Linked DNA regions of Homo sapiens: all the other regions are linked to region 2. Evidence: fine-mapped QTL for protein levels in blood plasma. A gene starts in region 2. Each other region holds a variant in brackets. All regions are shown on one strand. Distances are from middle to middle. Region 1 overlaps RASSF5 (Ras association domain family member 5). Region 2 holds the start of CTSE (cathepsin E). Region 3 holds the start of PM20D1-AS1 (PM20D1 antisense RNA 1).

What was found. PIP is the posterior inclusion probability: the model's chance that the variant is causal. Protein levels are from antibody-based Olink assays in UK Biobank. Linkage for the fine-mapping came from a reference panel and not from the study's own genotypes, which makes the PIPs less certain.
Region 1: its variant is fine-mapped to the plasma level of the CTSE protein (UK Biobank, PIP above 0.99).
Region 3: its variant is fine-mapped to the plasma level of the CTSE protein (UK Biobank, PIP above 0.99).

What each region holds. Positions count from the first base shown.
Region 1 is chr1:206,569,901-206,580,984 of GRCh38, forward strand. All of the region lies in intron 2 of RASSF5 (Ras association domain family member 5), which reads left to right. It also overlaps a transcript of EIF2D not described here. Among named protein-coding and RNA genes, the nearest start is that of EIF2D, 37 kb to the right of the region's middle. RefSeq lists an enhancer at 5,958-6,007. The variant G/A (reference allele first, on the strand shown) is at 4,407.
Region 2 is chr1:206,021,385-206,032,312 of GRCh38, forward strand. It overlaps CTSE (cathepsin E), which reads right to left and starts at 2,511. Exons shown (of 9, transcript NM_001910.4): 1 at 2,340-2,511; 2 at 1,517-1,673; 3 at 766-883. The coding sequence starts at 2,407.
Region 3 is chr1:205,856,492-205,867,575 of GRCh38, forward strand. PM20D1-AS1 (PM20D1 antisense RNA 1) reads left to right here and starts at 5,588. Exons shown (of 3, transcript NR_046097.1): 1 at 5,588-6,107. It overlaps LOC107985250 (a long non-coding RNA gene), which reads left to right. Exons shown (of 2, transcript XR_001738417.2): 1 at 1-1,088; 2 at 1,652-2,132. The variant C/T (reference allele first, on the strand shown) is at 6,301.

The DNA of each region.
Region 1 (11,084 bases), 550 kb after region 2:
CGTGATGGAGGCCCAGTTGCTTAGATGTGGCATTGACTCCTCGCTTGGAATACAGAAAGTAAGGGAAGCTCCCAACTCTATGGGAAACAGATAAAACCAGCCAGTGACATGGCCTCCAGGTTTCCCCTGCCCTTTTTATTTTTTATTGTGGTAAAATACACATAACATAAAATTTACCTTTTTTTTTTTTTTTTTTTTTTTTTTCCCCAAGACAGAGTCTCAAATCTGTCACCCAGGCTGGAGTGTAGTGGTGCAATATTGGCTCACTGTAACCTCTGCCTCCCAGGTTCAAGTGATTCTCCTGCCTCAGCCTCCCGAGTAGCTGGCACTACAGGCATGGACCACCACGCTTGGCTAATTTTTTTGTATTTTTAGTAGAAACAGGGTTTCACCATGTTGGTCAGGATGGTCTCAGACTCTGGGCCTCAAGAGATCTTCCTGCCTCGGCCTCCCTAAGTTCTGGGATTACAGGTGTGAGCCACTGCACCCAGCCAAAATGTACCATTCTTAAGTGCATAGTGCAGTGACGTTAAGTATAACCTCACATTGTTGTACAACCATCACGACCATCCATTTCCAGAACTTTTGTTTTCCCCAACTGAAACTCCTTACCAATTAAACAGTAACTCCCTACCAATTAAACAGTAACTCACTATTTTCCCCTCCCCCCACCCCTGGCAACCACCATTCTACTTTCTGTCTCTATTAATTTGACTATTCTAGGAACTTCATATAAGTAGAATCACACAGTATTAATCCTTTTGTGACTGGCTTATTTCACTTAGCTTAATGTTTTCAAGGTTCATCCACGTGATAGCATGTGTCAGAATTTCCTTCCCTTTCAAGGCTGAATGAGATTCCATTGTATGGACACAACACATTTTTTGTTTATTCATCCATCAGTGGACACTTGGGTTTCATCCATCAATGGACCCTTGGGTTGCTTCCACCTTTTTTGGCTACTGTGAATCGTGCCGCTGCAAACCTGGGTGTTCAAATACTGGTTTTCTGATATTTGAGTCCTTGCTCTCACATCTTCTGGGTGTATACCCAGAAGTGTAATTGCTGGATCACATGGTAATTCTGTTTAATTTTTGAGGATCACCATACCATTTTCCACAGTGACTGCATTATTTTACAATCCCACCAGCAATGCACAGGGCTGCAGTTTCCCTGCATCCATGCCAATGCTTGTTATTTTCTTGTTTATTGTTTTTATTAATAAGCATCCTGATATGCATGAAATGGTATCTCACTGTGGTTTTGATTTGCATTGCCCTAATGATTAGTGATATTGAGCATTTTTTCATGTGTTTGTAGATCATATATAGATCTTCTTTAGAGAAATATCTGTTCATGTCCATTGTCTATTTTTTCATCAGGTTTTTTTTTTTGTATTGTGGTAGTTTATATATTCTGCATATCAATCCCTTATGGCATATATCATTTGCAAAGGAATACTCTCTAAATTGGCCTGAAAGAACTGAGAGAGCTTAGGAGAGAGTTGGCCTGGGATGGGGTATTGGGATCCACTCACTCACCTACCCACCGTCCATCCTTAATTAACTCTGCAGTACTCTGGTTCAGGGTGGTCTGGGAATACAAAGATGGAAAAGGTACAGTCACTGACTGTGGTGTGCTCATAGTCTAATGAGGGACACAGGCTTGTACCACTAACACTAACGTACAGAGAGTCAAAGCAATGCTGGAATAATTGGGCATATGCTGATGTTGTTGGAAAATCCACTAATTCTAGATAAGAGTGGGTATCCCAAAAGACACTGTCAGTTCCAGGGGCAGGAGGCCAATTCTGTCAGATGTAGAGAAGGGAGGACTTTTCAGGCAGAATGGTCAGATGAAGGGCTCAGGGAGACTGAAAGGACGCTGACCTAGGTGAGGCTGGGTGAGGGGACAGGGACCTAGCTGGAAATCCAAGGAGGAAAACACCCAAAGGAAGACCTTCTAGAAACTCCTGAGGGCATAAGATGTCCCAAGGGAAAATTCCTGTGGCCATCTCAGAAGATTGAGTGTCACCCTCTTCTGTCTGGTTCAAACTTTAGACCTCTGAGCTAAAAAGGGGGCTTCATGAAGACCTGGAGCAGGGGAGAACAGAAATGGAAAGGATTTGGGTCATCTATTTTCAGAAGCAGAGGACAGAATTCTCATCTGGTGTTCAGTAGTCTCAGAAGTAAATGGGTCCATGGACCAGCAATCCTACAAGACCTTTATAAAATTCTGGAACCTTTTAATTACCTTACATTTATTTTGGGGTTTAGGGTGCATGCGTGTTACTGCTTCTTTGTGTTTTCTTCAACGCATGAAGCCAATGTTTAATGAACCCCTATTGTGTGCCTGACACTGTTCTGGGAGCCGCCTCAGTGAACAAGCCAAAGACCCTGCCTTGAGGGAGCTTCTTCCGAGATAGCCCACACAGTTGTGTCCTAGGCCACAGCCTGGCCTTGGAGTGGCTGTGGATATCAGAAAAACCTCCAGAATTGAGTACATGGGCACAGCTTTACAGAAGAGCACATGGTGCCCCTGGGATGCAGCAGAGAGGAAGGGAGTCTGTCCAGACCTGGGGCTAGGGTAACCAAATGCACTGGTTCCCCCGGACTGTCCTGGTTTTAGCATTGAAAGCCCTGCATCCCGAGAAAACCCTCAGCCCCAGCACACTGGGACAGTCAGTCGCCCTACCTGGGACTGAACAGCTGGAAAGTATGGTCACTTCTCCATGAGGCACAGCAGGCATCGTGCCACAGGCACACACGACTTTAGAGGTCCACAAAAACGTTTTAATTTCTTTAAAATCATGAGAAAAAAAATGAACATTTAGGTTGAAGAAAGTGTTTTAATATAGGATATTGATGTATTTGTCTTTATACCGATGCAATCATAGAATATAATTTTCAGTGGGTTTTTTTTAATGGAGGAAGGGGCCCTTGGCCCCAAAGACAAAAGTTCTTAGGACCCATGAAAGTCATAATGTGGCCTTGGCTGAAGGGCCTATCGGGAATCAAGGTCCCATATTGGGTCCCCACTGACCAAGCTTTGGTCAAATGACTACTGAAGATGATAATGGAAAAATTTGGACAAATGACTACTGAAGATGATGATGATCATGATCATGATGATGATGGTGATGATGATAATTTGGATGATGACGCACTAGCTAACATTTATGGAGTGCTTACTGTGTACTTTGTGCTAAGCACTTTGAGGCCTGAGATCTCATTTCATCTTCACAACAAATGTATAAACTGCATTTCACAAAGAAATCAGTCTCCGTGTGGTGGCTCATGCCTGTAATCCCAGCACTTTTGGAGGCCGAGGTGGGCGGACTGCTTGATTTTTTACCTTCACATCAATCCCGTGAGGCAATAAAGGATTTTTATCCCAAATTTATAGATGAAGAAACTGAGGCATATAGATTTTCTGACTTTCTCAAGACCATGTAGTGAGTAATAGGAGTCAGAAGCCAAATACACACTCATGTTCATCCTGCAGGTATTTACTGAATCTCTGCTATGTGTCAAGCTGGCACTGGGATCTGGGACGCCATAGAGGGCAAGACAGGCACGGGTGCTTCTCTCACGGAACTCAGTATAAATGGAAATCCAAGGCTCACTACTGCACTGTAATTCCTAGGAGAAATTAAGACCTCAAGAACCACTGAAGCAAGTATTGAGCAAGTATTTCCTATTTGCCTCATGTTCAGAGCCACCAGGCATAGAGAAGTAGTAGCAGTGGATGTAAGTCATTAAAGAGCTTCAGTCTAGTTGGGAAGAAGACCCGAGATGGATGGTCTACTTGGAAGTTAATATAAGTAGCCAGGCGTAGTGGCTCACGCCTGTAATCCCAGCATTTTGGGAGGCCAAAGCGGGAGGATCACTTGAGGCCAGGAGTTTGAGACCAGCCTGGGCAATATAGTGAGAGCCCCATCTCTTAAAAAAACAAAATAGAAATCGGAGTCTTAGTGAGGTGGACTTGATCAAGTTCACAGAAGACCAAGGGCATGGCCAGCACAGGCCACCTGTGGCCCAGCGTGCAAGGCAGCATGGTCTAATGGTGAAGAGTAACAGCATCTTTCTTGTTATTTAGGGGATTAAATGAGATCAGGACCTTGAACCCTTCAGGGCAGTGCCTGACTACTGTCGGTTTTTAATATTATAATGAGGCTCTGCAGGGGCTTGAACTTAGGTCCCTGTAAGGGAGCTACTGTTCCCTGGTATAACCCACTCTAGCTGAGCTGTGCAGAGACTGAGATGGTCACCTCAAAGAGCAGGGGACCCCGTGTCCAGACTCTGGGGCATGCTGGCAACCTGAGGAGTCTGCGGGAGTGGCCTGATCTGTGCTGCTTGAGGCTTTTTGTCCCAGATCACACTGTACTTGCTCTGGTGTGCCACAGC[G/A]CATCCATCTCTGTCTTCCCTTCTCAGGTCACCTGCAGACTCCCAAGGACAGGGTCACATCCCATCTGCGTCATCTCTCAAGGTGCCTTTCACGATCCTCACCCATAGGCAGTTCATTCAGTTACTACTGGCGGACTGTTGACATTGACCATCTGCTCTACGTTTTTGTCTTTGGAGACTTGAGTCTCTTTCCATTCTCAACCTCCACCCGCCACCTCTTTTTTCCCTCTGCTCTGTTAATACACCCTACCAGAGCTGCTCAAATTCCACATGGAGCAGAAGCTCCATGATAAAGCCCCTTCCCTGCTCTGCTGCAAATAACCTATTAGGGAACACAGTTAAGGAGTTCCCAACCCTTTTAATTTTGGGACAATGGACAGTGCCATAGAGGGACCTGTGGAAATCAACCCCTTCACTGCTGTGGTGGGTCTGTGGAGTCCATTTCAGAACACAGGCCTTCGAAGACCTGGGAGGGGGCCCTGCAGTAAGGCCCCATAGGGATTCCTCTTTCTCATTTGGTTGAGACCATCACAAAGGGACCAATGACTTTTTTTTTTTTTTTTTTTTTTTTGAGATGGAGTCTCGCTCTGTCATCCAGGCTGGAGTGCAGTGGCGCAATCTTGGCTCAATGCAACCTCTGCCTCCCAGGTTCAAGCGATTCTTCCGCCTTAGCCTCCCGAGTAGTTGGGATTACAGGCGCACGGATAATTTTTTTGTTTTTGTTTTTGTTTTTTTTTTTAGAAGAGACAGGGTTTCATTATGTTGCCCAGGCTGGTCTTGAACTCCTAACCTCACCTTTGAATGCGGTTTGGACATTGAGCAGGGTATTTCAAATCCAGCCCAGATAGATGGGTGTCTGCCCCTTGCCTGCAGACGTTCCCATCTAGGGCAAGCACAACAGAAGCACCGGGTGTTTGGGGTGTGGAAGGCAGCTGCAGATGGACATTCTCCTGTAGGAGGGGCCTGAGGCTTTCCTCCCTGACTTAAGCCTGGAGATGGCTTCCTTCCAAGGGGTGAAAGAATTGCTGCTGACAGATTTGCTAAGAGCTGAGAAAGAGGAAATGTGGCAAAGGCTCATGGTGAATGGCTTCCGGGGTATTTTTTGTTTTGTTTTCTTGAGTTGTGTGTGTTAAGAATGCGTAGACCGGCTTGGGCTTGGCTAAGATAGAGTCTTGCTGACAATAGAGAAAAGTGGTGAGCAGTGAAAAAGTAAAGTCGTGGCGGTTAGAAATGTTCTTTGTGCTCCTTTAGATTGGTTATTCCTGCTGCCATTCAGCCATGCTAGCTAGCCTCCAAGAGGCCCCCATCTCCACACCCAATTCTCTGAAATAGAAGAGGAAGCAATGATGAGAAAAAAACACCACCCTATCTTATGTGTAAAATCTTAGTCCTGCGAAGGGGCCCTTAGAGCTTCTCCAGTATCACTTCATGATTTCACAGATAAGGAAACTGAGGCCCTGAGAGGGGAAGTAGCTCCCCAGACGTCACAGGTCATTTGATGGTCTTGCATTTGTTCTCATCAGCTAGCTGCCAAGAGCTGAGCCACACGGCTAACGCCAAAGTCCAAAGCCTGGTGTGTGTTCTTGGTATCAGACCCTCAGGGTGCAGCTGAGTGTGAGGTGCTCCTGGACCTAGGGGTCTGGGGTGGGCTCTGGCCTGAGACTCCCCAGGCTGTCTTGCCCTCCCCTGCCACCCAATCAACAGGTATTTATCTGACACCTACTTAAAGTTTGGCCCAGGTTTCAGCCAAGCGGGGTGCCAAAAAGCTTAGGCACCAAACTAATGTCTGCCTCCATCCAGAGAGCATCTCACTGGGGAGATGGGATTAACATGTGAAACAATCATTAAACAATAAAAGGCAGCATATAATTAGATGCCAGCTGTAGCCACACAGGCTCTGAAATCACCTCTATAGGCTCTTGCAGTATGGATTTAACATTAGCCAGCAGCTGCAGAGATCTGTGACGATGGTAATTTGTACTTTTGCTGCAATGGGAATCTGAGGCTTTGAGGCCATGGGGCTGGTGTTTGGGAGCGAGTCACAGAACCAGGGGGTGAGCCTAGCTGTCTACCTCCATCCCTACCCCAGCCAGCTTTGTTGCCTCCTCATTGCAGAATGGAGTAAAGTGAGCAAAATCCAAGGAAGTGCCCAAGCCTTTGTCTTCTTGTGAAAAGTGTCCATGAAATGAGAGTGAAGTTACAAAGGCCCATTAACTGGTGGTGTGAGGAAATACACAGGAAACATAGGAAGTATGATTCAGGAGAAAGAGAGACCAGGACAAAACTGTGATTACCTTTCTCCATGTGGGAATCAAAATGCCAGGGATCTGGTACATTAAGAGAGCAGAGGATGGAGAGATGGCTATAGACTGGAGAAATTGCATTGGGAAACTACATAGAGAAGGTGGAACTAGGGCTAATAGTGTTCTAGGCAGGAGACTCTGCACAAACAACAGCATAGAGCAAACTACTGCACATGGCCAGGTTCCATAAATAAAGTTTGTTTTGTTTTTGAGACAGGGTCTTGCTCTGTCACCTAGGCTGGAGTGCAGTGGCACAATCACGGCTCACTGCAGCCTTGAACTCCTGGGGGCTCAGGTCATTCTCCCACCTCAGCCTCCTGAGTAGCTGGCACTACAGGTGCACTTCACTGTGCCCAGCTAATTTTTGTATTTTTTTTTTTTTGTAGAGACAGGGTCTCACTATGTTGCCCAGACTGGTCTCGAACTCCTGGGCTCAAGCGATCATCCTGCCTTGGCCTCTCAAAGTGCTGGGATTGTAGGTGTGAGCCACCATGCCAGGCCCATAAATAGTTTTACTGGAACCCAGTCACACTCATCCAGTAGCTGCTTTTGTGCCACAATAGTAGAGTTGAATAGTGGCAACAGACTGCGTGGCCTGCAAAACCTAACATTTACTGTCTGACCCTTTACAGAAAAAGTTTGCCAACCACTGGTGCAGAGAAAGGAATTAACAAACTCTATGGGCATGTGGCCAATCAGAAGAAGGACTCAAGGAAAATGAAAACTGAAATTGGCTCAGAGGGGTAGAACTTTGCTTTCCTGGGATGATAGTCACCATACATGCCTTTGAATGGGTTTGGTGATTTTCAGAACACTTTTGTACCCATTATCTCATTTGATTTTTACCTTCACATCAATCCTGTGAGACAATAAGGGATTTTTATCCCAAATGTATAGATGAAGAAACTGAGGCTTAGAGATTATCTGACTTTCTCAAGATCATGTAGTTAGTCATGGGAGTCAGAAGCCCAACACACACTTGTGTTCATCCTGCAGGTACTTAACCCCTACTATGTGTCAAGCTGGCACTGGGATCTGGGACACCATAGAGGACAAGACAGGCGTGGGTGCTTCTCTCACAGAACTCAGTCTAAATGGAAATCCAAGGCTCACTGCACTGTAATTCCTAGAAGAAATTAAGACCTTTTTTGTCCACTGTAGGCAATAGGGGATCATTGAAGGTTCTTGAGCAAGTATTTCCTATTTGCCTCATGCTCAGAGGCACCAGGCACAGAGAACAAATTGAAGTATGATGTAAGTCATTAAAGAGCTTTAGTCTAGTTGGGAAGAAGACCTGAGATGGATGAGTCTACTTGGAGGTTAATGTAAGCAGCCAGGCGCGGTGGGTCACACCTGTAATCCTGGCACTTCGTGAGGCTGAAGTGAGAGTATTGCTTGAGGCCAGGAGTTTGAGACCAGCCTGGGCAACATAGCAAGGCACCTCATTTCTACAAAAAAATAAAAAAAATTAGCCAGGAGTGTGGCACATGCTTGTAGTCCCAGCTACATGGGAGGCTGAGGCAGGAGGATTGCTTGAGCCTAGGAGGTCGAGGCTGCAGTGAGTTGTGATTGCACCAGTGCACTCTCGACTGGGTGACAGAGGGAGACATCTCAAAAAAAAAAAGTGTGTGTGTGTGTGTGTGTGTGTGTGTGTAAGTAGATGCTTACTTAAGTGCCAGATAGTATAGTGTTGCCTTTAGATGTAGGTTAGCTTTAACCTTCCTGTGGCTCACTTTCCTTGACTGTAAAATGAGCATCATAATAGTATTTTTTGTGACACATTTGCTGTGATGATGAAATGAGCTAATACATGCTAAGTGAGTAGAATAGTGCACGGTACATATTAGCTGTAGTGAATCATCGTCATCATTCAGGGCTGGAGTGATCAGGAAGAGCTTGACAAATAAAGTGACTTCTGATGGGCAAACAGGTGTGAGATGATTCAAATCGTGGGCCAGAAGGAGGAAAGACTGACAAATTTAAAAAGAGTGAGAGTGAATTTTTTAGCAAAAATTAGGTTTGTGATTTTGGTCAAGAAAAAGTAGGCACGGATGTATATAATAGCTGCAGTACTGCCGGTGGGACACACGTCCTCCTCAGCCCACCCTCATCCTGGGGACCCCCTCTCATTGCCACAGCATTCCTGGGTGCCCTGGGCCCACCTGGGAATACCAGAAGCCACGTGACTCACTCAGAGCCTCTCCTTAGGGCATTAGGTCACTCTCCAGTCACCAAAATTAAGATTACATATGTCATTGATTAGAGTGCAGAAGTAGGGTTTTGTTGCTGTTGCTTTAGTGATAAAATAAAGAAAAACAGCTTAGGGCAAATCTGCCCTGAGTTAGGCCCCAGACGAAAGGGGTATGGTCCTCCTTATTTTGTTAAGAATATTTAAATGGAAGCATTAGAGAATCACTCAGGGTCGGGGTGTCGCTGTGAACCCCTAGCACCCAGCCTCTTTACATGGCTGTTCCCCAATCACCTCCAGAGCTAAAAGAAGACATTGCCCTTTTCCACCGCATAGGACATGTGAGCACAAACCTGTTTTTCACCAGTGCCCTGGACATGCCAAGTGCATTGGGAACAGCTCAGCCATCTGCCACCAATGCCAGGGGCTTAATCGGAATAGATGAATTCCATGCCAGATGCACTGAGATGTGTGAGCCCCCAGGAGAGACACCTCACATGCCAATGTCTATATTTGTTAAATCATAACAGAGTTCCCTATTCTGTCTCTATCTTGGGCCACCCCAAGAGGCAAAACTGTCTGCTTGGTTTCTCGCTTTGTACCCGTGGACAGATCCTTAAGAATCTGGCAGGTGAATAGGAATCAGAGTCTTTGTCTTATCCTCTGAAGATTGCTATAGTATCGATCTCGCTCTCATGGCAGATAGTGCCTGTTAGGTAAACCTTTGGGGTGTTTGTGTGTTTCTTGGCACCAAGTGTTAATTCAGCAGCTGGATGAAGACCCTTGAGGTCTGGAATTGTTGTGAGGGGTCTGTCTATTTCAGTTCTTTTCGAATGTTGCTGCGAATTAAAATCAACTAGGAGATTTTTAAAATTCCCATGCCCAGACTGCACCCCAGACCAATTAAATCAGAATCTCCAGGGATGAAGCCCAGGCAGCTAAGTTTCTAAAGATCCCCCAGATGATTGCACTGTGCAGACAAGTTTAAGAACCACTGGTCTGGATTATACGCCATCTCTTGGGTGGAAAAAGGATCCGTGAGCCCTCGTGGCTGTGGCTGGCTGGCCTAATTCAGGAGGTGATTCATTTGGTCCATGGGTCACATCTTGTCTGCCAGATATTTTTGTGGGCAGCAGCCATCCCAGACCTGGGTGCTGGCATTCCATGGCTGTGACATTCGTAGTGTTGGCTACACACGGGGCTCCTGGCACTCCCAGACAGGGCTTCCCATCACCAGCCAGAGGGCCAGGCCTCAGAATGGTGAGGTCAGGGCTGCTGTCTTTTGAGTCAGCCCTGGAAGGCAGAGGTGCCTGTGGCCACTTGCGTCACTTCCCCGCGTTTGTGGTGGGAAGGGGAGAGATAGATGGGTCTATCTGCTGAAGAAAGGGGAACAGGAAGAAGAAACCCTAGGCTAAGGCAGCTTTGCTTCTCACTGTATTCAAAATCAAGCCTTTGAAAGCCACAGCACAGCTGCCTTTTCTTACGGGGAAATGGCTCTAGCTTGATTGGAAACTATGAGAGGAGATCTTTCCGAAGCTTCTAGAATTTTCTTTCCATTACTTATTTTTTATAGACAAGTATGAGAAAGCTATTACCTCCTGAGGAGCAATAGCCTACATGCGTCAGAGACAGAGTGAGTGTATAATAGTAACCAGACAACGGGGTCTTTCTAATTAGAAGCTCCCAGCGGGAAGGTATAGGGGTAGGGCCAGGGTCAGGCACATCTGGTCCCATAGACATGTGCTCAGCTGGCAAGGACTGAGGATGGGGAGCTCTGGGAGCTACCCAAGGGAAGGGATGAGGAAAATGAGAGGCTTCACTGTGAGAGTCCCCGGGTTAATGGACTGACAGTGAATGAAGAGAGTCTGTGAGGCTCACACTACTTGCTACTCACCTCCGGCAAGTGGGAGATGGCCAGAGCTGCTTGCCCTTGGGTGGTCTGCAACAGAATCAAGGTTCAGTTCCAGAGACCTGGGAAGGCACACAGGAGAAGGCTGGGCCCTGCATCCTGGTGGCTGCATCTCACTTGAGTTAGAAGTCCTTCCTTCCCACCTTCACAGGTGACATGGTGCCTCTGGGGCCTGACCCGCTGCTTAGACTCATCTTAGATGAACATTTCACAGATCAGGTAACTTACAGGCTTTGGTTTAACAGCTGCTCATCCCAGCCCCGCAGCACAGAGTTTCA
Region 2 (10,928 bases):
GCAAACCTGATTGTCCACAATGACCTCATGAGGCACACCAAGATAAGTGTCATTTATCAGGCGCCAGCCACAGTCCCTGCCACCCATTGTGGGTCAGAGGTTGGCTTCAAAAGAAACTCAGGGATAAACAATTGCCCCAGGAAATTACTCCCAACTTTTCTCCCAACCGATGGACATCTCTAGCCTTGGGGTTTCCAGAGACATTCTGTCTCTGGGACTTGTCCTGTATCGAACAAGACATCTTTCTGTAGCTCTTCTTTTCCAATCCTCACTGAAACTTCTGAGTTACCTCTGGACAAATGGACCCACCCATGCCATTGTGCCCCACCAGCCCCACCTGTGTGCACCAGGAGATAAGGCTACCAAGCCTCCTTGAAACAAGCAGACTATCTACACTAGAACCCGACTCACCTCCCTGCTCAGAAATAACCAATTAAATTAAACTTCCCCTACATTCCTTTGGGTGTTCCAAAGGAAGTGAGTCATTATGTCAAAGATTTCTCTTTTCAATGGCTTTCTTTCTATTAATTCTGATCAGTATGAAAGTTACTCTCTTGGACAGCAGCCACATTTTAGTTCTTCCTTGGCTTTGCTCTATCTCTGCTATAAGCAGTTCCACGGCTGACTCAAAGATGGAGAGTGGAAGCTGGTGTGGCAGGGATGGCCAGTTTCTGGAACCTAAGCCCCCCTTCCCCAGAGTACCAGGCTTGGCCTCCCAGGACTAGCCCCCAGACATTCTCTGCTGGTGCTCCTGGCCCCACTTACTGCAGGCTGGGCTAGTGCAGTACACAGAGGGGACCCAGAGGTTGGAGGAGCCAGTGTCGAAGATGACAGTGAAGTTCTGTGGTGGGGAGCCAATGGAGATAGTGCCGAAGTATTCCATCTGCAAGGAAGAGTGAGAAGGAAAGAGGGTGTGGGTGGTGGGGAGGGACAAGGGTGCTCACCAGGAAGCCAGGGGAAAGCTCCCAGGGGCCAGAGCCTGGGGTAATACAGACTGGAGTTTACAGAGCCTAGGAAGTGGCAACGCTGGAAAATAAAAGGTAAAAGGAGCAGAGAAATGGCCATGAAGGAGGAAATCAAACCAAGCCTCTGGCTACTTCATTTGATTTTACTTGCACTAACCTGATTCTTATAAATACATTGTAGGAGAGGCAGTGGAGGAAGAACCATCTGTTTTACAGACCAGGGAACTGGGGCTGGGAGAGGTTAAGTAACTTGCCTAAGGGTACACAGCCAGTAAGCTGCCCAGCTGAGAGCAGAAGCAGGGGCCTTCAGTGTGGGATGATGCTTTCACTCCCAGCCCTTTCCTTCTGCAGAGAACTCTGACATTTGGGTACATGGGGGCCTGCTTAGCCAACTCCATGGGGACCCAGGGAATCAGTCCCCATGGATCATCATCCAAGTGAAGAAATCCACAATGGCCTTCGGTGCTACTGATGTGGCACTGGCCATGCCCTAATGCTGGGCCTTCCTCCCGCTCCCACCTCTCCCCAGCCCTGACCCCAGGAGGCCTCACATCCAAGTAGTTGATGAGGGGTTCCTTGGCACTCTGGTCCATTGAGCAGGACTCGGTGAACTGGATCATGTCCAAATTATGGGATTTCCAGAACTCAGAGAGCTGGCTCCGTGCCCGCAGCTTCTTCTTGAGGGACGGATGCCTCCTGAGGGGCACCCTGGAGACAAACCCCCATGTAAGCAGGAGATGTACTTCTGCCTCCCTCTTCCCCCCATTCTCGTCCCATTTTCTCAGGGGCCAACTAGAGAAGATGGGGTGGGAGGGGGGGATCTGCAAGACAGCACGCAGGATACAGGTGGGATCAGCGTCCTCTCTGCCACTCAGCCTGCCCGGCCTCATCTCTGCCCTATAGAGTCTTAGAATCTTAGAGTGGAAATGGCTCCCCTCCTGGAGCTGAGGTCTTTGAGATCTAGGAAAATGGGAGATGTGGGGCGGTCTACAGTTTTACATGAACATCACGAAGGGCTGATTTAAAGGGACAGAAAAACTCTTGGGGACAGTGATGGTCAGTCCCCTGGGGAAGTCCTGGGGCGCTTTGAGCTACAAACCACAACTGCAGGTTCCTGCTCTTTTGCAACACAAGAAGACCCCTGGGACTTGGGAAGGCACCTCCGTGGAGGTGGAGGCAGGAGGATGACTTGTTGAGGACTGGAGATTAAGGCCATACACAGGCGGTCACTGGATGAGTCTCTTCCATGCATTGACGCAAGCCCTCAGCTTCTCCTCCTCTTCACCTCCCCATCAGCTTTCCTACCCCAGAGCAGCCCTGAGTTGCAGGGCATGGGACTACCCAGCTGAACACAGTGCGGGGACGTCTTCTCACCTGTGAAGGGATCCTTGGGCCTCTCCCAGCTCCAGGAGCACCAGCAGCAAAAGAAGGAGCGTTTTCATTGTGAGTCCGACCAGCAGCTTCTCCCTTGCCCCCTCCTTTCTTCTCTCCCCGAGGGCAGTGGGAACGGACTTTCCCTAACTCTCAGACCTGCCCAGCCCAGTCTGAGGGCCGAATGATAAGGCCCTGGAGTCATTAGCCATGCCCAGAGTAAATACGGCATGTGGAACAGGGCGTTCCCCCTGCACCTCTCCGTCCCTTTCCCACCTACAAGAGGAATATGAGTCTGCGGGGAGAACTTGGGAGTCCTCTGGGGCTTGGCTTCTCTCAGGGCTTTGGCACCTCCTCTGACCCCAAGAAACCCTGTTAATGAATCCGGAGGGCAGCACATGCCTGGCTGCCTGGAAAGGCCCACTGAACTCTTACTGCAAGTGCTCTAGCTGGAGACTCTGGAGGGGTGGGAGCTGACTTGTCATGGGTGGCAGGATTCTAACTCAAAATATTCGTCAGTCTGTTTTCTGGGTGATTCCTGTTCTCTCCTCAATCTCTCAAATGCTCCAAAGGCAGTTTATCCTTCCCTGGCCCACTTTGAAGCACAAACCAGCACTCCTCAAAGGCCCTGAAATGGGAAAATGTAGCTGCAGATTTATGGAGCCCACTCTCCTGACTCTAAGGACTTGATGAATCTGGGGCTGGGGCTCAGGGGTGTGTGGAGGAGAATGCAGGGGCAGCGAGGGAGGGTCAAGGGGGTCAGCGTCTACAGCAAGTGCCCGCATGAGTCTACTAAAGCGGCCATGACAAAGTACAGGGGGCTTAAACAACAGAAATTTATTTTCTCACTATTCTGGAGGCTGGAAGTCCAAGATCAAGGTGTTGGCAGACTTGGTTGCTTCGGAGGCCTCTCTCCTTGGCTTGCAGATGGCTGCCTTCTCTCTGTGTCTTCACATGGGTCTTCCCTCAGCGTGTGGCTGTGTCCACATCCACATTTCCTCTTCTTATAAGGACGCTAGTCATATTGGAGTAGGGCCCACCCTAATGACTGCGTTTACCCTTAATACCTCTTTAAAGACCCTATCTCCAAATACAGTCACGTTCTGAGGTACTAGGTGTTAGGACATCAACATGGATTTTGGAGGACAAAGTTCAGCCCTTAACAGTGCTCAGGGACAATAGGATCTTCTATCTGTCAAGTGGGACTAAGCGCAGGGGTGGAGAGTGGGTGGGGCTCAGGCCTTAGTTACCGCAGTGTGTGAAACCCCCTCACCATCAGCCTATCTCTGTGGCCACCCGCCTCATAAACAGATGGTGGGGCTTCAGTGCCTGGGGTGGGGATGAAGGGGTTACAGGTAGGAAGACCCTGACCCTGACTCAAGTTAGCCAGGGCAGCAGAGGCCACCACCATATGCCAATGCTTCCAGAGGGCACTAGCTCAGCAGTAGGAAGTAGATGGCCTGCGTTTAGGTTTAGCTCTGCCCTGACCAGCTAGTGTTCTGGAAAATCTCTTAAGTGCTATGGGATCTGCCTTTCATCTCTGAAGTTCAAATGGCAAGCAAACGTGGAGTATGGAGCTAAGCCAAACCCACCCTTGGGTCCAAAAATGTTAAAAAAAGACATCAAAAAGACTTAAGGAACAGCCTAGACCTTTGACCCCTGAACCCAAGGCAACAAAGCCTCTTTGGCATTTCCCAGGAGCCCGTCTTGTTGATCTTTCACTGGGGAGAGTGGTCTAAACCTAGAAGGGCAGCTTGAGTCAGAAGTGGCTAGAAGTGGAGATCATTCATTTTGGCAGTAAACTCTGCCATGTTTTGCCCGTAACTGCTTATTCACCACATACCTTAGTTTTGTCATCTGCCAAATACCTTACCTACATCAATGGGTTTTTAAGGAGGATTAAACAAACAAAATAAGGTACAGATATACTTGTTGTACTGCACTCTGCTTTACTGCACTTTGCAGATACTGCTTTTTTTTTTTAATTGAAGGTTTGTGGCAAACCTGTGTCAAGCAAGTCTATCAGCACCATTTTTCCAATACTGTGTGTTCATTTTGTGTCTCTGTGCCACATTTTGGTAATTCTTGCAATATTTCAAAGTTTTTCATGATTATTTTATCTGTTTTGGTGATCTGTACTCAGTGATCTTTGATGTTACTGTTGTAATTGTTTTGGGGTACCACAAACTGCACCCGTGTAAGACAGAGAATTTAATAAGTGTAATTGTGTGTTCTGATTGCTCCATTGCTCTACTAACTGGTCATTCCCCCATCTCTCTCTCTCCCTCTCTTTCTCTCCCCCTCGGGCCTTCCTGTTGCCTGAGACACAACAATATTGAAATTAGGCCAATTAATAATTCTACAGTGACCTCTAAGTGTTTAAGTGAGAGGAAGATTTGCATGTTCCTCATTTTAAATTCAAAGCTAGAAATTATTAAGCCTAGTGAGGAAGCCATGTTGAAAGCCAAGAAGGGCTGAAAGCTAGACCTCTTACACCAAACAGTTACCCAAGTCATGAATGCAAAGAAAAAGTTCTTAAGGGAAATTGAAGGTGATATTACAGGGAACACACAAATGATAAGAAAGCAAAATAGTTTTCTTGCTGATATGGAGAAAGTGTTATTGGTCTGGATAGAAGATCAAAGCAGTGACAACACTCCCTTAAGTCAAAGCCAAATCCAGAGCAAGGCCCTAACACTCTTCAGTTCTATGAAGGCAGAGAGAGGTGAGGAAGCTGCAGAAGAAAACGTGAAGCCTATGGAGATTTCTGCAAGGTGAAGCAGAAAGTCCCAAAGCAGAAGCTGCAGCAAGTTATCCAGAAGATCTAGCTAAGATCATTGATGAAGGTGGCTACAATGAACAACAGATTTTTAGTATAGACAAAATAGCCTCATACTGGAAGAAGATACCATCTAGGACTTTCATACTAGAGAGAAGTCAATGCCTGGATTCAAATCTTCAAAGAACAGGCTGAATCTTTTGTTAGGGGATAATGCAGCTGGTGACTTTAAGTTGAAGCCAATGCTCATTTGCCCATTCTGAAAATCCTAGGGCCCTAAAAAACTATGCTAAATAGAGTTTGTTTGTGCTGTATCAGTGGAACAACATAGCCCTGGATGACAGTACATTGGTTTACAGCATGGTTTACTGGATATTTTAAGCTTGCTGTTGAGACCTACTGCTCAGAAAAAAAAAAATTCTTTTCAAAATTTTACTGCTCATTGACAATGCAACTCATTGCCAAAGAGCTCTGATGGAGATTTATAAGGAGATAAATGTTTTTATGCCTGCTAACCCAATATTCATTCTGCAGCCCCTGGATCAAGGAATAATTTTGACTTTCAAGTCTCATTATTTAAGAAATGCATTTTGTAAAGCTATAGCCACCATAGATAGTGATTCTGATGGATCTGGGCAAAGTAAATGGAAATCTTCCGGAAAGGATTTACCATTCTAGATGCCATTATGATTATTCATGATTCATGGGAGATCAAACTATAAAATTAAAAGGAGTTTGGAAGAAGTTGATTCCAATCCTCATGGATAACTTTAAGGGGTTCAAGACTTCAGTGGAGAAAGTAACTGTAGATGTGGTGGGAATAGCAAGAGAACTAGAAGTGGAGCCTGAAGGTGTGACTGAATTGCTGCAACCTCATGATCAAACTTGGATGGATGAGAAGTTGCTTCTTATGGATGAGTAAAGGATGTGGTTTCTTGAGATGGAATGTATTCCTGGTGAAGATGCTGTGAACACTGTTGAAATGCCAACAAAAGATTATGAATATTGCATTAACTTGGTTGATAGCAGTAGTAGGGTTTGAGAAGATTACTCCAGTTTTGAAAGAAGTTCTACTGTGAGTAAAATGCTATCAAACAGCATCATATGCTACAGGGAAATCTTCAAGAAAGGAAGAGTCAATCTATGTGGCAAACTTCATTGTTTTCTTAGTTTAAGAACTGGGCGCTGTGGCTCGTGCCTGTAATCCCAGTATTTTGGGAGGCCGAGGCGGGCAGATCACCTGAGGTCGGGAGTTTGAGACCAGCCTGACCAACATGGAGAAACCCCATCTCTACTAAAAATACAAAACACCTGGGTGTGGTGGTGCATGCCTGTAATGCCAGCTACTCAGGAGGCTGAGGCAGGAGTATTAATTGAACCTGGGAGGCGGAGGTTGCAGAGAGCCGAGATCCTGCCACTGCACTCCAGCCTGGGCAACAAGAGTGAAACTCCATCTCAAAAAAAAGAAAGAAAGAAAGAAAGAAATTGTCATGGCCACCCCAAACCTGGAGCAACTACCACCTTGATCAGTCAGCAGCCATTAATGTCCAGGCAAGACCTCCGCCAGCAAAAAGGTTATGACTCCCTGAAGGCTCAGATGATTGTTAACATTTTTAGCAATAAAGCATGTTTTAATTAAGATGTTTTTAGACATAATGCTATTGCACACTTAATAGACTACAGTACAGGGTAAACACAACTTTTGCATGCATTTTGAAACCAAAAAACTTGTGTGATTGACTTTATTGCAATTTTCACTTTATTGCAGTAGTCTGGAACCAAACCCACAGTAGCTCCAAATGATGCTTGCATGTGGAAGTTCTTGAAAAACTGTAACATGTCATGTGAACTAAAGATTGTCACTAAAAACTTCAGTGTTTCAGAAGTGCTGGAAGGGTTCTTACAGACTCTCAAGACAAACCCACTTGTATAGCAGAATGAGAAAACTGAGGCAGAGAGGCAAAGTGATCAGCCCAAGAGCACATGGTTCATTTAGTGGCTGATCTAGGATTAGGACTCAGCCCTCCTGACTTCTAAGCGGGCAAACTTTCTGCTACAGAATTATAGCATCATTATCACTGAACTGTTGAAAGGGGGCTAACCATAACCCCTCCCTCCTTTTCCATCTTTTAGACCTCTCCCTGCATCCCTCTTGCCCCTGTTTACTAAATGTAGAGAGTTTGCCTGGCCCAGGCTTGAGAAAAAGCTGACTGGTCCTTGCAGCTGTGGGCCACCTGACTACTGAGTGGAGCAGACACAGCCTCGACTGCCTGCAAGGAGCCCCTGGGTCTAGCTGGATTTTGGAAAATTTGACAAAGGTTAAGAGCAGGAACACTGGGGATGTTTGTCAGAGCTAATGGGATCTGTCCTCTCCAGAGACACCAGGAACTGAACCTACCCTGGCTGTAGATTACTGGCCTTTTCCAGCAAGAACCAAATATTGCTGTGGACAATTTGAACACTTTCCAAAGAACAAAAGACCTTAGGCATATGTGTGGTTGTCTGTGTGTGTCCTTTGAGCAGAGGGAGAGAGAAGAGCATTTGAGGTGAAATAGTATGATGTGGGGGAAAGTGACACATAGTATAGTCAATGATCCGGTCTCTCTGCATTAGGAGAGGGTCTTTGGAGAGAGAGAGAGAGGGGTGGGGGGAGAGAAAGAGACGCTCAAGAACGTGGATTGGAGGCTGGCTGGATGTAGAGACTTTGTTCCCAGAACATTTGAAAGCTGGTGGTGGTGTCACTATCTAGTGAACTTCTTTCTGGAGCTTCAGCTTCCAGAAAGTAAATTAATAATAAGAGGACATTTGGGAGGCTGAGGTGGGCTGATCACTTGAGGTCAGGAGTTCAAGACCAGCCTGGCCAACATAGTGAAACCTTGTCTCTACTAAAAATACAAATATTAGCCAGGCATGGTGGCACGTGCCTGTAATCCCAGCTACTCAGGAGGCTGAAGCGGGAGAATCTCTTGAACCTGGGAGGCAGAGGTTGCAGTGAGCCCAGATTGCTCCACTACCCTCCAGCCTGAGAGGGCAACAGATGTCTCAAAATAAAATAATAACAATATAAGAGGACAGTTGCTCAGTGCTCTGTGGATAAGTTTTATCAGGGCTCGATAGCTCCTAGAACAGAGTCTGTTACTGTCAGACATGAGCTGGCTCCTGCTCACAGGGGAGCCGGCACCGCAGGATGCACTCCAGGATGCCTGACTCTTGCAACACATTGCTGGTTCAGCACAAACCTGGCCAACTGGGAAATGGCCCAACCTCTTTTGCTTAAAGTTAGGAAATGAGGGAAAATCCACGATGCTGTGTGTGGTACAGTAGAAAGATGTCTGTACCAGGTGAGATGAGATGAGATGAGATGCCTGGCTCCAGTCCTGGCTCTGCCACTAACTGGCCATATGATCGCAGATAAATCCCTTCTCTCTGAATCTAGTTTTGTTGCCTATAAAATGAAGAGGCTTGATTGGGTGACAATATCAAGGAATACTTTGGAAGCATTAGCTCTGTGCTAGGCTCTGAGCTAAGGGACTTACAAGCATTAGTTCATTCAAATCTCTCACCAATCCTATCAGCTAGGTATTGTTTTTAAGCCCATTTTACAGATGAGGTAATTGAGGCACAGAGGGTTTAAGTAACTTGCATAAGGTGCTGAAACCAGGATTCAAACCCAGGTTTGCCTTTGAAGTCAGTGTTCTTAACTGTGGCATTGTATTGGGTCATCTTTGAGGTCTGACATTCTAAAATTTCTTTCTGGAAGAGAAAGGCACCGAGGAATGGGAGAGAGGAAAAGAAGAGAGGGACAGAGAATAATTTCTTGCATGGTAAAAATTGGAGGCCTTCTTTTATTGTAAGAACAAATGGGTGTGTGCATGGTGGGGTGTGTCGGTGAGGAGCTGCATGATGAGATATCTTCTCACTGCATATTTTTCAAACATTTTCTATTTTGCCATCAAGGAGTCTCTCAGCAAGGGAGACTATTGTATTGCCGACAGGAGCAAAAACTCCCACATGTACCTTTCTCCAACTCCCCACCTTCGACACATTCTGAAAAAATAAAATTTAAGGTGCTCAAACCATTTTTTTATTGCCAAAAGAGAGCACCTGGCACTAAAAGCTTACTTTTTCCATGTGTCTTAATATACTTTGGTTTGTCAAAGCCTCTTGTTTTCATGCAACTGGAAATAAGAAAGATTCAATGTCTTCAGTATCTCCCAATGTCAAGGATTCAATTTGTTGGAGTCATTTCCAAAACCACCAGCAATTCTACTCCAGGAAAGTGCCTTTCAGACCAGCCATTGCTACAGCACAGTCAGCAGAGGGCGCAGGCACTGGGAAAGTTTCTCACTTGAATACTGCCTGTGTGTCTTTGTGGCGGGAGAGTATGTGTGTCTGTACCTGTAAGCAGGAAGAGCAGCTTATGCCTCGGGCTTGCGCAAAAGCAGGACTGCACACTAACACCACCATCTGCTTTGCTTGTTACTGAGCCCAGGCTTTGGAAGCAGACAAAGCAAGGTCTGAATTCCCAACTCTGCAACTTAACAGATGATTGCATGACATTGGGGATGTGCCACAGCTTCAGATTCCTTCACTACAGAAAAGAAAGAATGATTTCCTTGCAGAATGGTCTGAAGATTCCATGAGACCATCTTCAGGATGAGTGCTTTCTATATATTACACAGCCCAGTGCTTGACATCAAGTAAGCCCTCATTACGGGTAGCCTGGCTAAATTCCACTTTATGCCATGCACTGCTCTAAGTGCTTTAAATGTAATAGGAAATAGGCCCAGACAGGGAAAGGAATTTGTCCAAGGCCACACAGCAGGTAATCATGGAACTAAGCATGCTGAAGCTCAGGAAGTCTCTCTACAAAATCTGTAATGTTGGCTGGGCACCGTGGCTCACGCCTGCAATCCCAGCACTTTGGGAGGCTGAGGCGGGTGGATTGCTTGAGTTCAGGAGTTCAAAACCAGCCTGGCCAATATGGCAAAACTCCATCTATTAAAAATACAAAAATTAACCAGGCATGGTGGCTTGCACCTGTAGCCCCAGCTACTCAGGAAGCCGAGGCATGAGAGTCGCTTGAACCTGGGAGGCGGAGGTTGCATTGAGCTGAGATTGTGCCACTGTACTCCGGCCTGGGCGACAGAGCAAGACTCTGTCTCAAAAGAATCTGTGATCCTAAACACAACTCTCAGCTGCCATGTATAGTTTACATATTATTGTGTATATTAACAGACTGAAATACATTCTGAAGGTCATTCACACTGATGTGTATTTTAATTGTTCAGGACAGTTGCTGAAGCTTCCACCTGTCCTCACTTCTTACTCTGTGATTAGGGGCTCAACTACTGAAAGGCTACAAAATAAATATACTCTTTGATACATAGTTTCCTTATCTGCCAAATGGAGTTGTTAGTTATTAGAAAATTAAATAAAAGCATATGTGAAAATGCATGACACACAGTAAAAGCTTAATAAATAATTAACATTTTATTATAAGAAGAGAGAGTATACCATAGCAAATATGCCATAAATCTGATTCCTTCCCTCCGTTAGTCTCCATGAGTTTTCTTTTTTAGATTTATAGTCACAGGGGCCTCCCTCTGCAGTGCTCCTTTCTTTAATGTTTTATTTCCTGTACCAGGACTGCCAGACTTTCTGAATCAGTTTCCATCCTGGAACTTCCTCAAGAGCCATCAGGGAAGGATTTAGGCTGTGGCTAGGTAGAATAAAGGCAGACCTTTAATCTCAGGTTCTTGTTTAAGGTGAATTTGTCTCCATTCCTAAAAACTCTTGTCTTGTTCCCAGCC
Region 3 (11,084 bases), 160 kb before region 2:
AAGAAAACTACAGACCAATATCCCTGGTGAACATAGATGTGAAAATCCTCAACAAAATACTAGCTAACTGAACCCAACAGCATATCAAAAAGATAATACACCATGATCAAGTGGATTTCATGCCAGGAATGCATGGATGGTTTAACATACACAAGTCAATAAATGTAATACATCACATAAGCAGAATTAAGAACAGAAATTATATGATCATCTCAATGGATGCAGAAAAAGCATTTGCCAAAATCCAGCATCACTTTATGATGAAAGCCACCAGCAAAGTCAGCATAGAAGGGACATAACTCAAAGTAATAAAAGCCATCTATGACAAACACACAGCTGACATTATAGTGAATGGAGAAAAGTTGAAAGCATTCCCTCTGAGAACTGGAACAAGAAAAGGATTCTTACTTTCACCACTGCTACTCAATATTGTACTGGAAGTCCTAGCCAGAGAAATCGGACAAGAGAAAGAAATAAAGGACATCCAAATTGCAAAAGAGAAAGTCAAACTGTCACTATTCACTGATATAATGACATGATATGATGACATAATTGTATACCTAGAAGACCCTAAAGACCCATCCAGAAAGCTCCTAGATGTGGTAAATGAATTCAGTAAAGTTTCAGGATACAAAAACAATGTACACAAATCAGGAGTACGGCTATACAACACCAACAACCAAACTAATAATCAAATCAAGAACTCAACCCCTTTTACAACAGCTGCAACAAAATTAAATACTTAGGAATATACCTAACCAAGGAGGTGGAAGATCTCTACAAGGAAAACTACAAAAAACTGCTGAAAGAAATCATAGATGATACAAACAAATGGAAACATATCCTATGCTCACAAATGGGTAGAAACAATATTGTGAAAATGAGCATACTACCAAAAGCAATCTACAAATTCAATGCAATTCCCATCAAAATACCATCATCATTCTTCACAGAACTAAAACAAATATTAAAATTCATATGGAACCAAAAATGAGCCTGCATAGCCAAAGCAAGACTAAACAAAAAGAAGAAATCTGGAGGCATCACATTACCAGACTTCAAACTATACAACAATGCTGGTAGAAGAGGTGAGGCAGGACTAGCTTGTCTGTCATAATGTAAAAGAGTCTTGGAAGATGTCTGGGGTCCAGGGTCTAAAACCCTTCGTGGCCTTTGGAACACCAAGCTCTATGCCAAAGGGTGGAAGGCTGCCCTGACATGCCAAAATCTAAGCCCAGGGCATAAAACCCCTTGTGGCTTGTATGGAATCCGGGGCTCAGGGCATAAACCCCCTTGTAGCCTCTGGAATGTGCACAGACTTGTTGGTTCCTTGCTTCTTACTTGTAAACATGTCCTCCATTATCTCAAGCAGCAGAGCATATTCTATATGCATCAAAGAAAATGCTAAACCATCACAGCTACGCTTAATGCACCACTACCTTTCTACCCCCACGTCCTCATGCCCTCACCTCTTTACCCCCACATCTGCACGTCCTCACCATCTGCTTCTTTGTTTGGTCTCCAATAAATAGTGTGGGCTCCCAGAGCTCAGGGCCTTCGCAGCCTCCAATCTAGTGTTGGCCCCCTGGACCCAATTTATGCACTTTTAACTTGTCTTTTCTCATTTCTTTCACCCCACCGGACTTTGTAGCCTGATGGCCTGGTGTTGGGCCTGATCACCCCAAAATTTCAGGCACCCAACGTGGGGCTATGAAGACCATGGTAAAGAAATGCTAGAGTATATGGAAATGAAGGACATATCATCAAAGGACACCCGAGGATGGCTGAAAGAAGCTTGGTGGGTAAGCTGGGCACTCTGAAGAACCAAGGTAACAATGGGACAAAATGAAAGTAAACATTCTGCTTGTTTAAACTTTCTAAGGCATTTATTATGGAGAGGGGGAGTGAAAGTTAGTACTCAGAATTTATTAACACTCTTTAGTACAGTGGAGCAGTTTTGCCTGTGGTTCCTAGAACAAGGGACAATGGAGTTCGATGAATGGGAAAGAATTGGCAGAGATCTAAAAAAGGTGCATAAAGAAGGAGCCAAAATTCCAGTTTCTTTTTGGTCAGTGTGGGCATTGATAAAGGCAGGTCTTGAGCCATTTCAAACAAATGATGAGGCAGATTCAGATAAGGAAGAGGAAAACGAGTGTAAAAAATTAACTTCAGATTCTGAATGTGGGGAACAGCAACCAGAGGAAATTAAAGAAAGGAAAACTAAAACAGATATATTTTAGTAGCCCGTTGGTTCCACCTGCTGAATTAAGTGAATGGCCACTTCCTTCCTCTCCCCCTAATGGTCGAGAAAATGAATTAGCTGCAAAACTTACTGCTCTGGTAGCTGCAACATTAAAACCTGGAGGAATTGGTGATGCTATACAAAATTCTATTCAGAAGGTTAGAGCTGAAGGAGACCTAGATGCATGGCAATTTCCCATTACTATAATCCAGCAAGGAGGACAGAATATAACTAATTGGACCACCTTTCCTTTTAAGTTGTTAAAGGAATTCAAGCAAGCCATTAGTCAATATGGGCCAAATTCTCCTTTTGTACAAACTTTACTAAAAAATGTGGCTCTTGATAATAGATTAATACCATATGACTGGGATACTTTAACAAAGTCTGTTCTCACTCCATCTCAGTACCTGCAGTTTAAAACCTGGTGGGCTGATGAAGCTCAAACTCAGGCAAGAGAAAACACACAAACACAGCCACCTGTGCTTGTTTCCTTTGAATGGTTAATGGAGTTGGGCCCTAATTGGGGATGATTAGACAATTAAGCAGTAATGGAGGATGTTGCCATCGGGATGTTCTGTCCGACAAGGACCTAAAGAACCATATACTGACTTTATTGCTCAGCTCCAAGAGGCTGTGCGTAAAGCTGTAACTGATAAAACAGCTCAAGACATGGTAATACAACTTCTTGCATATGATAATGCTAATGCAGAGTGTCAAGCTGCCATTAGACCTATGCAAGGGAAGCCTCATTTGGCTGAATATATTAAGGCTTGTGATGGCATTGCGGGTAATTTACATAAGGCTACTCTTTTAGCTCAAGCTATGGCTGGATTAAAGGTGGGAAAAAATATGCCCCATTTCTCAGGCTCTTGTTTTAATTGTGGGCAATTTGGACACACAAAAAAAGGAATGTAGAAAAGGAAATCAAAAGGCAAAAACTATTACCATCAATCAACAGAAAAGTTCCGGTGTATGCCCCTGGTGTAAGAAAGGCAATCACTGGGCAAATCAGTGTCATCCTAAATTTAGCAAAGATGGGCAACCTCTTTTGGGAAACGGGAAGAGGGGCCCACCTCGGGCCCCTCAACAAACTGAGGCATATCTGGCACAGCCAGTGCCCTTACAAAAGTACAACAATTGTATCCCACCACAGCAGGCAGTACTGTGTAGATCTTTGTAGCACAGTTCCCATTTCCTTACTTCCTGGGGAGCCACCAAAGAAGGTCCTCATGGGAGTTAGGGGCCCTTTACCCTCAGGAACAGTTGGTCTATTGCTTGGAAGGTCTAGTTTAAATTTAAGAAGTGTCACTGTACATACAGGAATAATTGATTCTGATTATACCTGAGAGATTCAGTTAGTTATTAGTTCCTCAATTCCATGGTCTGCTTCCCCAGGGGAAAGAATTGCTCAGTTGTTACTGTTACCTTATACAAAGCTAGGAAGTACTACAGTAAAAGGAACAGGAGGCTTTGGTAGTACTAACCCAGCAGGAAAAGCTATATATTGGGTTAATCAAGTGTCTGACAAAAGACCTATTTGTACAGTAACCATTCAAGGAAAAGATTTTGAGGGGCTAGTACATACTGGAGCTGATGTTTCTATTATTGGTTTAAATCAATGGCCCCAACATTGACCAAAACAAAAGGCATCCATTGGTATTGTTGGAGTAGGGGCTGCCTCAGAAATTTTTCAAAGTTCTTTAATTTTGCCATGCCAGGGGCCAGATGGCCAAGAAGGGACAATTCAACCTATTATTACACCTATTCCTGTAAATCTATGGGGTAGAAACTTATTACAACAATGGGGTGCTGAAATATCTATTCCTATGGATCAGTATAGTGATAACAGTAATCAAATGATGAGAAAAATGGGATATCTCCCAGGGAAGGGACTGGGAAAAAATGAAAATGGCCAAACAGAACCTTTAGAACTAAAAGGGCAAACAGATACAACTGGATTAGGGTATCATTTTTAGGGGTGGCCATTGCTGAGCCTCCGGGTCCCATTCCTCTTGTTTGGTTAACTGCCAAACTGGTTTGGGTGGAGCAATGGCCGCTGAAACAGGAAAAACTGGAGGCTTTAAAAGAATTGATACAAGAACAATTGCAAAAGGGACACATAGAGCCTGCTCTCTCCCCTTGGAATTCTCCTGTGTTTGTTATTAAGAAAAAATCAGGGGAATGGAGAATGTTAATAGATTTGAGGACTGTCAATGCTGTAATTCAACCCATGGGTGCACTGCAACCAGGGCTGCCTTCTCCAACAATGATCCCAAAATACTGGCCTCTCATAGTGACAGATTTAAAAGATCACTTCTTTACCATTCCTTTAGTTGCCCAAGATTATGAAAAATTTGCTTTTACTGTTCCTGCTATAAATAACAAAGAACCAGTGGACAGATACCATTGGAAAGTACTGCCACAAGGCATGTTAAATAGCCCGACTATTTGTCAAACTTATGTTGGAAAAGCTATTAAGCCAGTTAGAGAACAATTTTAAAAATGTTATATCATACATTACATGGATAATATTTTATGTGCAGCTGAAACTAGAGAGGAGTTAATGCTATGTTACAAACAGTTAGAAAAGGCTGTGACTGCAGCAGGGTTAATCATAGCCCCCGATAAAATTCAAACTTCTACTCCCTTTCAATATTTAGGAATGAAAGTAGAATAAAGTACTATTAAGCCTCAAAAAGTTCAAATTAGAAGGGATAATTTAAAAACTCTAAATGATTTTCAAAAATTATTAGAAGACATTAATTGGATTCATCCTACTTTAGGCATTCCTACTTATGCTATGTCTCACCTCTTTTCTACCTTACGAGGTGATTCTGATCTTAACTGCAAATGGTCCCTGTCCAAAGAGGCATTAGAAGAACTTCAATTAATTGAAGAAAAAATTCAATAGGCACAAGTGACTCTAATTAACCCTATGCAGCCATTACAGTTTTTAGTTTTTCCTACTAAACATTCACCAACAGGTGTTATTGTTCAACAGGATGCTTTGGTTGAGTGGCTTTTTCTACCTCACAATACAACTAAAATGCTCACTCTGTACTTAAATTGCTGTACTAGTAGGACAAGCAAGGCTGCGCACAACAAAGTTAATGGGATATAATCCAAATAAAATTATAGTTCCATTAGACAAACAACAAATTCAGCAGGCTTATATTAATTCCCAGGAATGGCAAATTAATATGGCAGGTTTTACTGGTGTTCTTGATAATCATTATCCTAAATCCAAAATATTCCAATTTCTTAAATTGACATCATGGATATTGCTTTCCATTACTCAAAAAACCCCTATTGAAAGGGCCATTACTGTTTTTACTGATGGATCTAGTAATGGAAAGGCCTCATTTGTGGGACCTCAACAAGTTTTTCAAACTGACTTTGCTTCTGCTCAAAGGGCTGAACTTATGGCTGTGATAACAGTGTTAAAAACTTTTAAATAGCCAGTAAACATTGTTTCTGGTTCAGCCTATGTAGTGCAAGCCACACAAAATATTGAACATGCCTTAATTCAAAATGTGACTAAAGACCAACTTAATGTTTTATTTCATTCTCTACAGCAAGCAGTACAACAAAGGCATTCCCCTTTCTATGCACTCATATGAGAGCACATACTAACTTCCCTGGCCCTTTAACTAAATTTAATCAAAGGGCGGATAATTATATGGGGAAGAGGATTTTCTTGTGTCTCTCCAGGTAACAATCAGGCACCTGTGTGGGTGCCCACCAAACATCTGGAGATCTATCATGAGCCACACCAGGAAGAGAGGGCTCTGGGAAGAGCCAGAGCTCCTGATATGAGTGATGGTACAAATGAACATCTCAGAGACAAAGGAGAAGACCAATGGAGGTATACACTAATGATAGTTTTTGGATGCCTGGTTCTACTGATGATAGAGGCCCATCTCACCCCCAAGAGGAAGGAACAATTATGAACGTCTCATTGGGATTTAAGCATTTACCTATTTGGTTAGGAAAAGCTAATGGGTGTTCACCTCCCAGTCATCAATCTTGGCTGGCAATAGTGCCTGAACGTAACATCT[C/T]CATAGCACAATTACATATGCTTTCTGGTCTTAGTATTTATCACCATGATTATGCTTCTGTAACTGAAGTTTACCACCCTCAGAAACCTATCTGTAAAGTGGACTAGACATGGTCAGAAAAAATGAAGGCATTTGCTTGGGAAGATTGTGTCACATGGAAAGCAGAGGTGTTGCATAATGATTCATATGGAGTCATTATTGATTGGTCCCCTAAAGGGGCATTTATGAGGCTCACCTCTCAATCTGTAAGTAATGGTCACCCTGCATCTAAACAAAATAATCAGATGGTGGACACTATAAGAAGTACAGCAAGAGATCCTATTATTTGGGCATGTGGTGGTATAGTGGTACCTCAGCCCCAAACGATATGGCCTGCTGTAGGGGCAAAACATAAGGAATTATGGAAAATATTAACAGCACTAAAAAATGATAAAGATTTGGAAAGGGAAATATACTAAGCCAACCCAATATAATCCTAATTACATGTTAAAATTGGCTCACAATGATTCAGTCTGGATACAGAGTTGTGTCCATCACCTTTCCTGTTTGTAGTGGGTGATTTAAAACTTGATCTCTTTAATCATCATGTGACTTGTCAATAATGTAGATTGTCTTCTTGTGTGAATTCTTCCTTATATAACACTGATCATTCTATTTTAATGGTAAGAGCCCAAGAAGGAGTATGGATACCTGAGAAGCTTTCCCATCCCTGGGAAGCCTCTCCTTCTGTGCATATTATTACTGAAATTCTTCAAAAGATTTTGAGGCACTCACGGCATTTCATTGCTACTTTAATTTTCATTATTATGGGATTGATTGCTGTCACAGCTACTGCTGCAGTAGCTGGAGTTGCTTTGCATTCCACAGTACAAACAGCAGACTATGTAAATAATTGGTAGAAAAATTCTACTCTGCTGTGGAATTACCAAAATAATATAGACCAGAAACTAGCTGATCAAATTAATGATCTCCAACAAACTGTAATGTGGCTAGGAGATCATATAGTTAGTTTAGAATATAGAATGCAGTTACAATGTGATTGAAATACCTCTGATTTTTGCATTACTCCTCATCTGTGTAATGAAACAGAGCATGAGTGGGAAAAAGTTAAGAGATATTTAAAAGGTCATACTAGAAATTTATCTTTGGATATTGCAAAGCTAAAGGAACAAGTATTTCAAGCCTCTCAGATACATCTGACACTAATGCCAGGAACTGAAGTGCTTGAAGGAGCTACAGACGGATTAGCAGCTATTAACCTGCTAAAATGGATCAAGACACTTGGAGGCTCTGTGATTTCAATGATTGTGCTTTTAATCTGTGTTGTTTGTCTTTATATAGTCTGTAGATGCGGAAGCCACCTCTGGAGAGAAAGCCACCACTGAGAGCAAGCAATGATAGCTGTGGCGGTTTTGCAAAAAAGAAAAGGGAGACAAGCGCCCAGCTATAGTTACCAATAAAGCATGGTACTGGTATTAAAATAGGCATGTGTTCTGTTCCAATGGAACAGAATAGAGAACCCAGAAACAAAGCCAAATATTTACAGCCAACTGATCTCTGACAAAGCAAACAAAAACATAAAGTGGGGAAAGGACACCCTATTCCACAAATAGTGCAGGGATAATTGGCAAGCCACATGTAGAAAAATGAAGCTGGATCCTCGTCTCTCACTTTATACAAAAATCAACTCAAAATGGGTCAAAGTCTTAACTCTAAGACCTGAAACCATAACAATTCTAGAAAATAACATTGGAAAAACTCTTCTAGACATTGGTTTAGGCAAAAAGTTCATGACCAAGAACCCAAAAGCAAATGCAATAAAAAGGAAGATAAATAGATGGGACCTAATTAAGCTGAAAAGCTTCTGCATAGCAAAAGAAATAATCAGCAGAGCAAACAGACAACCCACAGGGTGGGAGAAAATATTTGCAAGCTATGTATCTGACAATGGACTAATATCCAGAATCTACAAGGAATTCAAACAATTAGCAAGAAAAAACACTTGTATTGTGTTTGTTCTGTAAATCAGCAAGAAAAAAATCACATAATTTCATTAAAAAGTGGGTAAAGGACATGAACAGACAATTCATAAGAAGATATACAAGTGGCCAACAAACATATGAGAAAATGCTCAACATCACTAATTATTAGGGAAATGCAAATCTAAACCACAAGGAGATACTATTTTACTTTTGCAAGAATGGCCATAATTTAAAAACACAGATGTTGGCATGGATGTGGTGAAAAGGGATCACTTTTATATGGCTGGTAGGAATGTAAACTAGTTCAACCACTATGGAAATCAGTATGGAGATTACTTAAAGAATGAAAAGTAGATCTACCATTCTATCCAGCAATCCCACTCCTGGGTATCTACCCAGAGGAAAATAAGTCATTATATGAAAAAGGCATTTGCACACGCATGTTTATAGTGGCACAATTCGCAATTGCAAAAATATGGAACCAGTCTAAATGCCCATCAAGCAATGAGTGGATAAAGAAAATGTAATATATATATATTATACCCACACACACACACCATGGAATACTACTTAGGCATAAAAAGGAACAGAATAATGGCATTAGCAGCAACCTGGATGGAGTTGGAGAGTATTATTCTTTTTTTTTTTTTTTTTTTTGAGACAGAGTCTCCCTCTGTCACCCAGGCTGGAGTGCAGTGGTGCAATCTCAGCTCACTGCAACCTCTGCCTCCCAGGTTCAAGCGATTCTCCTGCCTCATTCTCCCAAGTGGCTGGGACTACAGGCACACACCACCACACCTGGCTAACTTTTGTGTTTTCAGCAGAGATTTTCACAAAGTTGCCCAGGCTGGCCTTGAACTCCTGACCTCAAGTGATCCGCCTGCCTTGGCCTCCCAAAGTGCTGGGTTTATAGGCGTGAGCCACCGTGCCCGGCCACATAGTGATGTTTTGATACATATAATATATAGTGATCAGATCAGGGATATTAGCATATCAATAATCTCAAACATTTGTCATTTCTTAGTGTTGGGAACGTTCAATAGCTTCCTTTTAGTTACTTGAAACTATATAACGCGTTATTGTTAACTATAGTCTTCCTACAGTGCTATAGAACAGTGGTCTCCAACCTTGTTGGCACCAGGGACCAGTCTGGTGGAAGACAAAAATGGGTGGGGGAGGGGGAATGGTTTCGGGGTGAAACGGTTTCACCTTAGATCATCAGTTAGATTCTTACAAGCAGCATGCAACCTAGATCTCTTGCATGCACAGTTCACTATAGGGTTCGCACTCCTACGAGAATCTCATGACCCCACTGATCTGACAGGGGGCTGCTCACTCACCTGCTGCTCACCTCCTGCTGTGTGGTCTGGTTCCTAACAGGCCACATACCAGTACCAGTCTGTGGCCCAGGGGTTGGGGATCCTTGGTATCAAATACTAGTACTTTTTCCTCTTATCTAGCCATAATTTTGCTTTCCAAAAGTTTTTATTTTATTTTATTTTTTATTGATATAAGATATTTTACATATTTTTGGTGCACTTTTTAAAATTTTTTATTTTGCAGTTGCAAGATTTAATAGAGTGAAAACAGAGCTCCCATACAAAAGGAGGGGACCCAAAGGGGGTTGCCCACTCCTGGCTCGAATACCTGGGGTTTATATCCAAATCATTTTTGCTCCCCCTGTGCTCTCAGATGATAGATGATTTGACTATTTCTTTACCTCCTGCTTTTAGTCTAATTTGTATTTTAGTGAGCCCTCTTTACTACCTGATTGGTCGGGTGTGAGCTGAGTTACAAGCCCAGTGCTTAAAGGTGGGTGTGATCACCTTCTCCAGCTAGGCTTAGGAATTCTTAGTTGGCCTAGGAAGTCCAGCTAGTCCTGTCTCTCAGTCCCCCTCTCAACAGGAAAACCCAAGTGCTGTTGGGGAGGTTGGCTGATGACTGCTCTGCTTCCTGCTGAATTTGGGTGTAGTAGGGGTCGTGCAGTTGAGAGTTCCTCAGGAGGGGTGCCTTTGATGTCATCAACATCGGAGCATGGGCTAGTAGGCTGGTCCAGGGGTCTGCAGTAGATCTTAGTCATGGACTGTATCTGGGGCTCCATTTGAAGAACCATTTGTAGTTTTACAGCTTCGATTCTGGAAGAGACAAACTTAACAAGGAGGTTAAAGATACACGGATTGAAATGTATGGCCTGAAGTGCAGGGGCATATGGGTGTGGGTGGTGAAAGTGGGGTTTCCTTTAGAAAAACTCCTATACAATGGGGCATCAATATTTCCGGGAAGCCGCATTCTCCATAGAAGCTCTTGGTAAGGGGAACTACTGGTAGTACAGCGGCATAGAGGAGGTGCAGTGAGCATGAAAGAGGGTAAGAGAACAGTAAAAAGAAAAATATGACAAGGGAGGGTCATGGGGATCTATGATTCTAGTTACTTTCCTCACGGTTGTTGCTTGAAGAGCAGGCGCAGATCCTCTAGAGGTTCACAAGAATAGCTAGCATTGTCTCCTGGATTTTCAGGTTCCTTTGGCAGTATCCAGGGTTTGACTCAAGTGTGATGTATCCAAGACTCCACTCCAACCACTTTAACTGTGGTTGGGGTAGATAAAATGACTGGGTAGTGTCCATCCCAGGATGTGTCTAGGGATGGGGAATTAGAAGGAAGGGACTTGACTAATACCATGTCACCGGGGTGGAATAATTCCTTTCCCTCCTCTCGGGGACAGGTTCCCTGTAGTGTTTTAAGAACTTGTTGATATTTGGCTAAGGAGGTGATGTCTGCAACTAAGTTGGCAGTCTCTCGGTA